Linked DNA regions of Homo sapiens. The main gene of each other region encodes a partner of the protein of the gene in region 2 in a complex. Links are inferred from orthologs where the notes say so. Each region holds a gene or a part of one and is shown on either strand. Other genes may lie near its edges.

What was found. The genes of interacting proteins can lie anywhere in the genome.
Region 1: the proteins of AP2A2 (region 2) and EPS15 are in contact, whole or in part, in a crystal structure (PDB 1KYU), measured with the Mus musculus proteins. The link is inferred for Homo sapiens from one-to-one orthologs. Residues at the interface, in XP_006536218.1 of Mus musculus: Phe442, Phe443, Trp446, Lys447, Asp487, Pro488, Val494, Arg511; in NP_031969.1 of Mus musculus: Asp629, Pro630, Phe631, Lys632.

Annotation. Positions count from the first base shown.
Region 1 is NC_000001.11:51,509,241-51,516,266, reverse strand, and holds part of EPS15 (epidermal growth factor receptor substrate 15), read left to right. Parts: intron 1-7,026. UniProt on the Homo sapiens protein: Involved in cell growth regulation. May be involved in the regulation of mitogenic signals and control of cell proliferation. Involved in the internalization of ligand-inducible receptors of the receptor tyrosine kinase (RTK) type, in particular EGFR.
Region 2 is NC_000011.10:991,852-998,877, reverse strand, and holds part of AP2A2 (AP-2 complex subunit alpha-2), read right to left. Parts: intron 6,376-7,026; coding exon 6,193-6,375; intron 5,595-6,192; coding exon 5,497-5,594; intron 5,125-5,496; coding exon 4,893-5,124; intron 4,807-4,892; coding exon 4,633-4,806; intron 2,777-4,632; coding exon of another isoform or gene 2,735-2,776; exon of another isoform or gene 2,685-2,734; intron 1-2,684. UniProt on the Homo sapiens protein: Component of the adaptor protein complex 2 (AP-2). Adaptor protein complexes function in protein transport via transport vesicles in different membrane traffic pathways.

The DNA of each region.
Region 1 (7,026 bases), on a different chromosome or scaffold from region 2:
GAGTTTGAATTAGCTGATCTAAGGACCTTTCCAACTTTTAAGATCCTGTTTTATAGACAGTGTTCTATGATTTATAGACCTAGTGGACTTTCTCTGGGTTCTTTAGTGCTTTACAGCCTTAAATGTTTTCTAATTCAGTTGTCTTTACTAGGTGTTCTGTTTACTTCTTGTCAATGAGAAGTAAAACCTGAGGGAGAAAGATCTTGATTTTTGCTTCTGTTGGTAGATTAGAAAAAAAGCATGTAATACTTAAAAAAAAAAAGTTTCCAATAGTCAGTTTTACTCCCTAACGCCCATATCCCTAATAATAATAATACTGTTAACTTCCCTTTGGGAATTACTATATGCCAGGAATTTTACTACACTTAGAATCTAACGATATGTTTTACAAATTAGAGAAGCTAGTAAGTAAGCTAGTAAGTGGTGAATCTACGATTTGAACCAAGGTCTGTAGGACTTCAAAAGCTATTTCACTGTTCTTCTCTATGTACTAGATGCTTGGCCTATCCAACGCTCCCTTACATTTTTTGTTCTTTTTTTTCGGCATATGCCATTGTCTTAAGTAGTAAGCCTCTTGAGGATATAAGCCATGGTTTTTGCCTCTGAATCTCTAGTGCCTTTGATAATATCTTGGATGATACAATTGTGTGTTCAAAGTTAGTGCTATTGATGATAAAGGTTTTATTTTACTGAGATAGGATTTGAATATTTAAAATAGTCTTTTAGCAATTCAGCTTTATACTGGTTTTCTTGCTTTAGTTTAGCAAGAATTTTTTTTTTTTTTTGTTTTGTTTTGAGACAGGATCACACTCTGTCACCCATGTTGGAGTACAGTGGCATGATCAGGCTCACTGCATCCTCAACCTTGTGGGCTCAAGGGATCCTCCCATTTCAGCCTCCTGAGTAGCTGGGACTACAAGTGTGCATCGCCATGCCCAGCTAATTTTTAAAATTTTTTTGTAGAGACAGGGACTCACTCACTATGTTGTCAGATTCTTTTTTTTTTTTAAAGTAATAAAAAAGCCCTTAAGTAGGGACTTAATTTTAAAAATCCTAGTATATAAATGGTATAACAACAGTTCTAATGCTTTTTTTGTTAAATTACAAGAGTGATATAACTGTATTACAGAAAACTTGGAAATTAGAGGAAAACATCTCCCATAATTTCACAGTTTGTAGTGTTTATTTTCAGTTTCATTTTTTAAACAAGTACGCAGTACAAGTGCTAATAAACATATCATCTTAGTAGTCTGGTTTAACAATTATGACAGTAAATACAGGTTAGTTTGAAAATGACAACATGTTCTCAGAAGCAGAAAAGTGATATTGTTCTCAACATGACAGATATTTGAGTTCCTACAATGGGAAAGGCACATTAATGATGTTTTTCTTTATTGCCTATAATTATGGTTCGATATACTCAGGAAATCTCTTGAGAGAGATATCTAACCCTTCTCAAAGATGGCTTGAAATGTTCAGCACTTGGGAGAGGTTGTCATAGTTAAAATTAATTAGGAACAAGTTCATCCAATAGCAAGTCTCTCAGGAATAATCTAAGAGTGCATTCCTTTGTTTTCACTCTATTTGCAGACAGAATGCTAGTAACAGACTAACGTGTAATAGAAAAAGATTGAGTATCATTAGCAACGAATCATAGTTCAGAATCTCTGCAATCTCTAATAGTGTGATTTTAAAGGCCTAATCTAAGATATTTTACTTGTTCTTTAGGGAATTACAAAAAGCACTTTATATACTTGTTTGTGAGTTTGGGGCTTAATAAAATTGGGAGCAGAAAAGATAACTATTGGGTACTGGGCTTAATACCTATGACACAAGTCCACTGATGTAATAAACCTTCACATGTACCCTTGAACCTAAAATAAAAGTTTTTAAAAAAAAAATCAGTACTCTGGAAACCAAAACCAAGTAAATGGCCTGAGAGAGATCTGGTTAGTTGGAGAACTGGTAGAAATAATAAACGAAAAGTTACTCCAGGCAGAGTTCATTAGGCAAATTCATATGCTGGAGTTTCATTTTTAAAGCAGTTGAATCAACAAGGTATGCCTTCATTAATTATATTTATTAGGTGTTTTTAATAATCTGAGGAATCTTGTAAATTGAATGCTGTATTACAGTAAAGTGAACTTTTTTTATTTAGACAAATGATCTAACCCAGTTAAGCATGCGTAGAAGAAAGCCTGGAAGAAAAAAAACACTAAAATTTTATAGTAGCATGGTTGTAGTTTTTATCTACCTTGTTTTCAACAGTGAGAATGTATTCCTTCTGTAATCAACTGATTTAGCTTTTCTCTATGGCATTTTTGAGAATTTATTCATTTAAATTGAATACACAATAACTACGTGTAAAGTAAAGCTTTGTGTTCTAAGATTGTGTCTACACTTAGTTTTCATCCTAAACATTTAGAGAAATTGATTAGAGGAATGATAATAATTATATTAATTGATTTGGACAATTCAGTTAGAGGACTAATTTATAATTTTTTGTGCTGCTTTATAACTTAACAAAGCGTAACCTATGAACTAAGCTATTATTATCATCATTTCAAATTGGAGGATACTGAGGCTCAGAATTTGGGACTTAGGTTTTATAGTTAGTAAATTAAAAAACCAATATAAATTCATGGTTAAAAAAATTCATACAATGCTAGTGAAGTCTTCTTTCTGCTTTAGGCCCTCATTTGCTTTCCCAGAGGCAGCCATTCTTGCCAGTTTCTTGTGTGAATTTCCAGTAATAGTCTGTGTATATGCGAATAAATATATATGTATACTGTATATGTATATTCTTTTGTGTAAGCTGTTTATTGTTTCACAGTTTGTTGTTATATTATTTTTAGCTTAACTGATTTAGGAGATTGCTCTATAACATCACATATAGATCTCCCTTATTGTTTTCAAAACCTCAGGGTATTTCTATATGTGAACTTACTGTTATTTATTTTACTGGCCACCTAATGCTGGACATTTATTTTGTTTTCAATCTTTTGTTACAACTATGCTGCAGTGGATACTCTTTTACATGTTTTTGTGCACATGTGTGAGCATATGGATTAATTTCTAGTAGGTGTAATTTTTGGGCCAGAGGATACTTTTAATCTGCATAGATACTGCTAATTTGGGGTAGGCATAGTGGCTCAGGCCTATAATTCCAGTGCTTTGGGAGGCTGAGGCGGAAGGATTGATTGAAGCCAAGAGTTCAAGGCCTGGGTAACATAGTGAAATCCATCTGGGACAAAAAAAAAATTTTTTTTAATTAGCTGGGCATGGTGGTGTGTGCCCGTAGTCCTAGCAGGCTACAGGTGAGCTATGATTAGCAGGTTACAGTGAGCTATAATTGCACCACTGCACTCCAGCCTAGGTGACAGAGCTAAGACCCTGTCTCCAAAAAAAAAAAAAAAAAAAAAAGATATTGCTCATTTACATTCAGAAACACTGTAGCAGCACACATGTTTGAGAGTGTCATTTCCTCCACAGCTTGATCAACATGTATATTATTGTCAGTCCAGTAATCAGAAAGATTTCAAACAATTTCATTGTTTTAGTTTGTTATTTCTTTATGGGTAAGGCTGAACTTATTTTTTTTTCCTTTGAAACCATTTGTATTTCTTTTTTTATAAACTGCTTTAGTCTTTTACCTGTTCTCTTGATGGGCTGTTTGTCTTCTTTCTCACTGATTTGTAAGAACTCTTCTTATATTTAGGAAATTTGCCCTTCTTTGCAAAATCCTTTGCAAAATTTTTTTCTCTGAATTTTTTTTTGTTTTTGGCATTTTTTGATTATGTAGAAATATTTGTTTTATATGTTTAATTTGTCAGTCTTTTCTCTTAGAGCTTCTGCAAAATCTAGATTTTTAAACTTCAGGAGCAGAGGCAGACTAATATAACTGCAAGAGCACACCTGTTCTGCCCCTGAGTAGTTCTGTGATCTTGGGCAAATTACTTAACCTCTTAAGTGCACTCATTTGCATATTAGAAATAAACTACTGAGACTTCTTGGGTATTATTGAGACCTCTTAAGCATGTTGTGATTACAAAATGAACTGGTGACTTATTTTCTTTAGCTACTCCTGTAGTTTCCCAATTTGTTAAAAGCTGGCCTTGTACCCTGCCTCATATACTCTGCTTTCCTATCACATAAATGTGAACTTCTGAATATTTTGTGCAAAAGTAGGATAGAAATGAGGTAGAAGAAACTCATTTTTGTGATATAAATAAGGCTTTCAAATGAATCAGAGGTGCAATTAAAAAATAAAAGTTGGGCTCTTTTTAAAACTTGTTTTTATGTGGTAAAAATATACAAAGAAAAGTAAGCCTCACTTCCTCCCTCCTTTAAACTGGGGATTATTACAATGGGAATATAACAGTACCAGGAGTTTTTCATCTGAAATAATCAAACTGCTTATTCCTTACTAAATCTGCAATAAGAATACAAATTTGACCAAGAATGCTAGGATAAGAACATATTTTTTGGAGGAAGACGTTTATATTACAGTACTTTATAGTTTTTTAGATCATGGTTTCTCAGCCTTGGCACTTTGAGATTTTGGGCTGGAGAATTTCTTGTTGTGGGAGGCTGTTCTGTGCATTGTAGGGTGTTTTGCAGCATCCTTATCCATTAGACGTAACACCTTCACCAGTTGCAGCAATCAGAAATATCTCCAGACACTGACAAATATTTCCTAGAGGATTAAATTGCCTCTGGTTTAGAATCACTGGTTTATTTATTTATTTTTATTTTAAAGTTTTAGTACTTTTGAGAGAGAGTCTCGCTCTGTCGTCCAGGCTGGAGTGCAGTGGTGTGATCTTGGCTCACTGCAACCTCCACCCCTGGGTTCAAGCAATTCTCGTGCCTCAGCCTCCCGAGTAGCTGGGATTACAGGCGTGCATCACCACGCCTGGCTAATTTTTTTTGTATTTTTAGTACAGATGGATTTCACCATGTTTTCCAGGCTGGTCTCTATCTCCCGACCTCAAGTGATCCTCCTGCCTTGGCCTCCCAAAGTATTGAGATTATAGTGTGAGCCACTGCGCCCGGCCAAATCACTGGTTTAGATATATACTTATTTATTTATTATTATTTTTTGAGGCGGAGGTCTGGCTCTGTCGCTCAGGCTGGAGTGCAGTGGTGTGATCTCGGCTCACTGTAACCTCTGCCTCCCGAGTTCAAATGATTCTCCTGCCTCAGCCTCCCAAGTAGCTGGGATTATAGGCGCCCACCGCCACACCTGGCTAATTTTTGTGTTTTTAGTAGAGACGGGGTTTCACCATGTTGGCCAGGCTGGTCTCGAACTCCTGACCTCAGGTGATCCTCCCTCCTCAGCCTCCCAAATTGCTTGGGATTACAGGCGTGAGCCATCGTGCCCGGCCTAGATACATACTTTCTGTGGTCCATTAGGACATACAAGATATACTTTCTAGGGGTGAGGACAGGGGAAAGAGTTTATCTTCATATTTTTATTCTTAAGCCTGCCATGAGCCATGATTGACTCCTTGTGCATAAATATTGAGCTTAAAAAACTTAAATGAGAAGGCAACCTGAAATTGTGAACTTAATTTTATGTGTGATTTCTGTGCCTTTTTTAGTGTGATCTCCTCCCTCTTCCGGCTCCACTGTAGTTTGGAAACTTAGTGTGGTCTTCTTTTAGTTGTGGAACAGTTCTATCTAGTGGGCTAAGTATCAATACAGAGATCCTGGAAGGAAAACATTCTTATGCCACTGTTGAGAAGGAAGAGGACTGATGCTTCTAGAACACCTAATAAATACTAAATACTTTTAGATGATCTACATACATTATTTCACTTAATCTTCATAGCCTTTCTACAAGTAGGCATTAATCTTCTGTATTACTTGCTCACGGTTGTATTTTAAGTGGGAGAGTTGAGACTTGAACCCAGGCACATCTGTTCTCCAAGTACATTTGCTATGCTGCTTCCTATAGTCATTGATGATATTTCAGTCAAATTTTGGGATAAGAATGAACATTCATGTGATCTTACATTCCTCTATTGTTATGTAAAAGAAATTATCCAGTGGTGTGTGTGTGCGTGTGTTTGTGTGTATTGGGGAGGAGGTCAATAGTGGGATAATAACAATAATACTTACTGAGCACACTTACGTGTCATGTGCTATTTTCAATAATCTTTACAACCTGATGAACCTTTCAGTATTCTTTACAACTTGGTAATCCTTATATCCCTGTTTTACAAAAACAAAACAAAATAAAAAACTGGGACACAGAGGTGAAGTAATTTGTTCAAGGTCAAACTGCTGCTAAGTGGTAGAGCCAGAATTGTAACCCAGTAGTCTAAGCAACTCGGATATTGATTGAATGAGTCTGCATTTTTAAGGGCAAAATGGCTCTGACAGAGCTTATTGTGGTACCATTCCTTGGTTATAGCTGAACATATGTTGTAGGCTACTACATCTTCCTATGTGAAAATCAACTTATCATTGCATACACCACATCTCTAGAAAGTGATTGTTGCACGAAGTTATAGTGGAAAGTTTTTGTAGACATAGTAGAAGGTAGTTTTTCATTTTGCAACCTCCAGATTTATTGCTCATGAAAATCTAAGCTTGTCTAGGTTAGTGTACATCATACCAATATTTACTTTTAAGCTAATATTCTCTCAGACATGGTTATTTGGACTTGGAGTTTCTACAGTATTGTATTGCTAAAGATAAAATGTATCAGAGACTCCCTATAAAATAGACTTTTATTGACTAAAACCTGGAACCATTAGCTGTAATGATTTCTGATCCTCAGATGAACATTTTTGAGAACTAGCATAAAATAATGAGAGAGATCTTGGGCTCTGAAGTTAGAATGTCTTAGGTAAATTGATAGATTTTAGTTATATGAGCCATTAATTTTTATGAAATGTTGCACTTAATTAGAATTTTGATGGATCATTTATACTAAGGATTATTGATAACTTCATTCCATCTTTTGTTCTGTAGGTACAACATAGATATAGCATTATGCATATATAAAAAATATGAAATTAT
Region 2 (7,026 bases):
TACTAAAAATACAAAAATTAGCTGGGTGTGGTGGCACACGCCTGTAATCCCAGCTACTCAGGAGGTGGAGGCAGGAGAACTGAAACCAGGAGGCGGAGATTGCAGTGAGCCAAGATCGTACCACTGAACTACAGCCTGGCAACACTCACACTTTGACACTATACACCAGGGGCTCTTGGTGGAGAAACCCCCCACCCAGCTAAGAGCGTTCTGGAGATGTGGAGGGCTCTGACTATCACAAGGATATTGGCATTTCACAGGCAAAAAACAGAGACACAAGACACCCTAACTTGAAGATTCGTCTTGAGTAACTTTAGAATGTTCCACTGGACATCTAAGAAGGTAAAAAATTAGTTTGTAATTATCTGAGACTCCACCTGAATGCCATTTTACATTAATGCAAAGTTAAGGTGTCACACTGTACTTTCAAAAAAACTACATGTGTGGGTTTGTGATATATGAATTTTACTCAAAGATAAATGAGGCATCACAAAGTGTGTTATGCAAAAAAGGTGCAGGTCAGAATGGGGGCGGGGGGTCAGAATGGGGGCGGGTGAGAGTCAGAATGGGGATTGGGGGGCAGTCAGAAACGGGGCAGGCTCCCAGGCTCTGCTCTTGTGACGGAGCACCTCTGCAAGAGAAGACGACACGGGTCTCATGTGCTCCAAGGGTGGGAGGTCACAGAGGAGCTGGCAGAGAAGAGTCCCAAAAATATCCAAGGCGTGTCTCGATGAGACCATCTGAAGGCGGCGCTTTGCTCCCTACGCCGGGGACAGCGCCCGCCAACACTGTGGCCTCCACAGCCTGACAAAGCTGTGAGCTGCGTGGGAAGCCATCGGCCTTGGCCATGGCCATGCACCTGCAGCCCAAATGGAGACAGTTTCTCCTCTGCATCTCATCACAGATGTTACCCTGGTTCCTGCACTGATTCAAATACATCTATGGCTTTTATTTTATTTTATTTTATTTTTTTGAGACCGAGTCTCACTCTGTTACCCAGGCTGGAGTGCAGTGGTGCAATCTCAGCTCACTGCAACCTCCGCCTTCTGGGTTCAAGCAATTCTCCTGCCTCAGCTTCCCGAGCAGCTGGGATTACAGGCACACACCACCACACCTGGCTAATTTTTGTATTTTTAGAAGAGACGGGGTTTCACCATGTTGGCCAGGCTGGTCTCAAACTCCTGACCTCAAGTGATCCGCCCACCTCAGCCTCCCAAAGCGCTGGGATTACAGGTGTGAGCCACCATGCCCAGCCATCTATGGCTTTTAACTGCTTTCTAAAGTAGGAAAGCCCTTTGCCCTAGTAAAGGCATTTGTACCTGAAACGTTACCACAGATTGTAACAGCGAGGCCAGATGCAAGGCCCCAGGACAGTAGGGTCCTAACACCCACTTCAGGTTCTTCATCTTCCTTATCCTCTCAGGCCTGGGAGACCCTCCTCAGGGAGCAGGCCTGGCTCCTGGGCCACACCAGTTCACCTCCTCCCTCCAATAGCAGGACAACTTGAGGGGTGAAGGTTTTGCCTACAAGGGCCCCAGGCTCCTGCATGTGAAGCCAGGCAGCCTCTGATCCCCACACCCCTGTGCTCCCCAGCACACCCGGGGACACGCACACCACAGCCTCCCCCAAGGAGCTGTGTGCAGAAAGAGGATGCTCGGAAGAAGTAAAATGTCCTGGCCTCATCTATGATGTTAAATAAAAGACATTTTGGCCAATGTGACACCAAGATAAAGCCACTGTCTCTCGTGGGAAAGGCACATGTGCTGATGCCACCCTGAGGCCCCTTCACGGCCCATACAGAAGACCCTGAGCAAGAAAACTTCGCCAGGAGTGTCTCCCCATAGGGAGGGGCCTCTCACTGGGGCTCCCGTGAGCAATGGGAACAGATTGGAAAGCACAGGATAGCAATGACACCCACACACCATAGCTCTCGGTCAGAACAGAGGGGCCCACACACCACAGCTCTCGGTCAGGACGGAGGCGCCCACACACCACAGCTCTCAGTCAGGACGGAGGTGCCCACACACCACAGCTCTCAGCTCAGAACAGAGCTGCGTGCCTCGGCCACAGACACCTCCCTAAGGAACCCACCCGCCAGGCACCACTGACCATCAGGAGTGAAGCCACACTCAGAAAATCCACTGAATGAGCCCTGAAGGGGGAACTCCCTCCAAGAAGGCACCTTACAGAAATGCTGAACCTCACTGGACCCTCATCCTCCTTTTCAGAGGGCAGCACACTGCTCTCACTCCCAGGGTCCAGAAGCTTCCATCTGATCCCTAAGCCACACAGTCAAGGCCAGGCCCTCCAAAGTCCACCCTGAGCCTAGCCGGACAAACCTGGGTGTGATCAAAGGCCTGGGGTATGGGCACACCTCACTTCTCAGGACCCACATTAAAAAGAAACATCAAATAAGAACCAAAGAGAGACTGAAGACAATCCTACAGCCCCTTTCCATGCTCCCTCAGCGAGTTCCTCTTAACGTCAAAGCAGCTGGAGGGGAGCGAGAGCACCTGGTGCCTTCCCAGCTTCCAACAGGCAATCCCAGGTTTCCGTGGAAGACTTCACAGTGCCCTTGCTGAAAGCCGGCCTCCAGGAATCCCTGCACACCAGCCTCCCCTGGATCACGTCATCCTGCCCTCGCCTCCTCACCCAACTGGGGCCGCGTCCTCCTCTCTGCAGGGCGGAGCCGCTGCCGGCCCAGCACCCACGGGAAGGCCCCTGCTCCGGCAGCTCACAGACAAATCTCCACAAGCAAGTTTCTGCCTCCAGAAACCTATGTCAAGATGTCCAAAGGAGAGGGAGAGATGGATTAGAGGAGTGACAGAGGCCTGCTGCACTAGGCGCCTGGCTAGTGACGTCCCACGGGAGGAGACAGGGTCAAAAGCAGGTCACCAGCTCTACAGAGCACATGAGAAACATAAGCATGAAGGTGCTCAGGCGTGAAGGGAAGACGCCCACCTTGGGAGAAAGAGTCACATCTTTCATTCATTTCATTCACTCCAGGATGAGCTCACAGGCAATTCAAGCCTCCAGATGGCGGGCACAGCAGCGTGCCACAAACAACACAGAGAGAGGGCACGGGGGGACAGGGGCTGCACAGAGGACACTAGGTGGAGGGAGGGGAGAGGGAGGAAGAGGGGGAGGGAAGACTGCTCATTGAGATGTCAGGCTCAGCCTGGATACCAGCCCCATGGCAGGCCCTGCACTGTCGGCCAGAGGGGCAGGACACATGGTCAGCCGGGGCACATAAGCAGGTCCCCGCCAAGGAGTGCCAGGACTCCGACATGAGCACCCTCCCAACCAGCACACTGCCAGGGCAGGCACCACCACAGGAGCTCACCCCACAAAGCCCTGCCGATACTGGGTAGCAGCACTGGTTGCCACCACTGGACCTGCGTCCTGGAGAGACAGGTCCTCTAACTGGACAAACAGAAAGCCCGCCTGACCCCGACAGGAGCCCTCCCTGACAGTGCAGAGGGGAACAGCTGGCAAGCAGAGCCAAGCAAAAACGCAACTCTCAAAACGACACTTCTCACCTGACAAATACCACAGGACACATTCTGTTACAGGATTATTCTCATCGCATCACACATACAAGGAAAACCAGACCTAACCCAACTCACTACATAAAACCTCGAAGAGCAGGGCAGGACAGGTCCTCTCTAAATCAACAAAGCATGTGAGGACAGCTGCCTGGGTGAGGCAGTCCTGTAGGAGAGGGGACGGCCACTTCCCCTAAAACAAGGCACCACAGAGGATGTGTGAGCTGAGCTGGACAAGACGACGGTCTGAAGGAAGTGCCTTGCCCAGCAGGCACAGTGGCCCCCGGGAGAGGACAGCGGGGTGTGCAGCAGGGACAGTGGCCCCCGGGACAGGCCAGAGGGGCGTCCAGCAGGGACAGTGGCCCCCGGGACAAGCCAGCGGGGTGTGCAGCAGGGACAGTGGCCCCCAGGACAGGCCAGGGGGGCGTCCAGCAGGGACAGTGGCCCCCGGGACAGGCCAGCAGGGTGTGCAGCAGGGACAGTGGCCCCCGGGACAGGCCAGGGGGGCGTCCAGCAGGGACAGTGGCCCCCGGGACAGGCCAGCAGGGTGTGCAGCAGGGACAGTGGCCCCCGGGACAGGCCAGGGGGGCGTCCAGCAGGGACAGTGGCCCCCGGGACAGGACAACGGGGCGTCCAGCAGGGACAGTGGCCCCCGGGACAGGCCAGGGGGGCATCCAGCAGGGACAGTGGCCCCCGGGACAGGCCAGCAGGGTGTGCAGCAGGGACAGTGGCCCCCGGGACAGGACAACGGGGCGTCCAGCAGGGACAGTGGCCCCCGGGACAGGCCAGGGGGGCGTCCAGCAGGGACAGTGGCCCCCGGGACAGACAGCGGGGCGTCCAGCAGGGACAGTGGCCCCCGGGACAGGACAGCGTGGCGTCCAGCAGGGACAGTGGCCCCCAGGACAGGACAGCAGCGTGTCCAGCAGGGACAGTGGCCCCCAGGACAGGACAGCGGGGTGTCCAGAGCCACAGCCAGAGCCTGGGTTCTCAGTACATGCTCCTCCCTGACAGGCAAATGCTCTGCTGGTCCCAAGTCTTGGGGGTGAGGCCCTGACAGGTCTGGGTGCACAGTAGGTGAGGGACCCACCACGGCGCTGGTACTGGCTGGGGCAGGCTCAGGACCCCCGTTCACGTCCACACTCCTGTCCCGCTTGGTGTCCTCCAGGTCTGTCACCGTGCTGGGGCCCTTCTTCTTCTTGAGCTTTGCCAAGATGGAGGACTCCCGCTCCGGGAATGGGGGCATCTCCTCCAGCACGGTCGCCTTGGAAAGAACACAGGGTGGGACTGGTCAGAGCTCCTGGCCTCCAACCCTCAGCCAAGCCAGCCCGAAGGGCGGGGGCCTCCTACCAGAATGTCGGTGCTGGCCACGGTGCTGAGCCGCAGGTACTCCACAGCACGCTGCTGCAGCTCCACGTCTGCGTTCCTGAGCTGGCTGTCGCTGCGCAGCACGTCCTGGATGGTGGGCTTCACCTCCGGGAAGAGGTTCACGAACTTGATGTAGGTGGACAGGAGCAGCGCGCGGGTGGGGACGCTGCACAGGTGGAACTTGGAGTGCAGCAGGTGGAACTGGATCAGCGGGCTGGGGACGGGGAGGCACAACACAGGGACACCGTCGTCCCCTCGCAGGCTGCAGCACGCCCCCGCGGGGGGGGGACGGCGGCGAGACCCCCTGGCCTGCACCAGAGGCCGCTGGTCGGGACCCTCTTCCAGCTCCAGATCCCACCGCAAAGACGCCCCTTTCACTAAGTCAGCCATCAACCCCACGTCTCCATTTTCTACTAGAATCCCTGCTTTTTCTATCAACTGAAGGAAAACAAAAAGACGCCGATGGGGAGCAGAAGCGGCTCTGCGAGGCCTCACGGCAGGGCCAGCTGGTGCCTCGCCTCTTGCCACCGACCACCGAGAGGCCCGCCGGAGCGCACACAGCCCCGACTCGCAAAGGGCCTCTCACCTGGATCTCGGGTCTCCAGCTATCAAGTTTCCAAACTCCCCCAGGATGTAGCCGCCCACTTTGACCAGGTTCTCGTGGCACGCGGGAGCCTGAAGAGCCTGCGAAGCACAAACAATGAGCCGGGGTGGCAGCCAGGTGCCAGAGTTAAGGCGAGGCGGGCACGTCCTGGCGCGGTGCACCCTACACCAGCACCAGCCCCTCAGCTTCCTGGAGACCCCAGTCCAAGTGCCCATCCCTGCCTTCCTCAGCACCCTCAGTACCTGTGTCAGCAGCAAGGAACCCAAGGCTGCCACACGCTGACCTGCCCTGGAGGGAGCTGCAGCATCCACAACAGGCTCTGGCTGGGGAGGTTCTGCCAGCGTCCTCATGGCACACCCCTTGCCGGTGGCCTAACCCTCTCCGACGGACAGGGCAGGCCCCACCACGGCATGCCCCAGCATGCTCTCACACACACAGAGGCCGGCTTTCTCAGGTGGCCCCCAGAGAGCCAGAAGTTTGAGAGTTAGGGTGAGAAGAAACTGGGACTCAGCAAGGGGCACCAACAGTGGAGGAGCTAGAGCCTCAGGGAAGAGCTGAGGGGCAAGAGGGGTCAGCAACGGCCCTCGGCACCTCCACGCAGGCAGGCTGGAACCACTCACTGCTCACCTTCTGCAACTGCCCTCCACCCCATCCTTCCTGCCATCCTGCGGGCCATACCTCGAACACAGTCTTGGCCGCGTAGCCCTGCACGTCGTCCCGGTTGATGACGATCTGAATGACTCGGTACCACACCTCTTCACTCACGTAATCACCAGCAATTCGGATCAAGTTCAAGATGGTATCCACATACCAGGTGTAGTCCACCGCGTACTTCTCAGCCAGGATGGCGACCTTCAGCACCTGTGGGGGACAGGCTGCTGAGGGCCGGCACCTGCAGGCCATGGCAATCCCAAGACCAAACTGTCGTCCAAAGTCAAAGTGAGAGTTTCAGAAGCACCTCAATGTGTCTACAAAAGTTTGGGACATGGAGGAAGCTTGAACTCGATTCTCAAAAAAGCCCACGAGCCCAGAAAGTTTAAGATGCCCTGACTTAAGCAAAGAAAGCCAGGAAGAGGCGGAGACCAGTGCACAGAAGGCCACGGCCACAGCCAGGCCACCTCCCACCTGGGCCCTTCTCTCCCAAAGCCCCAGCACCTGGCGGCAGCACTCCTCTGACCTCATCACCCTAGGCTCCCGGTGGCAGCACTCCTCTGACCTCTGACTGCGCCACCCTGGGCTCCCGGCGGCCAGTGACTGCGCCACCCTGGGCTCCCGGCGGCCACTTCTCTGCTGGTTTCTTCCGGCTCTGGCCAGTCTTTCCTGCGAGCCTCACCTGGGGGTTCCCCTTCTTCCCCTCTCTGGCTCACTCTCACGGGTGCCCCCCGGAGGCACCTGCCCAGCCCACACCCACGTGGCAGCCACCCACATGGAGCTCTGCCAGGCTGTACAACACCAAACTCATCTCCCCAAAGTCACCTCGCCTGGAACCAAGCCCCCTTCGAACAGCGCCAG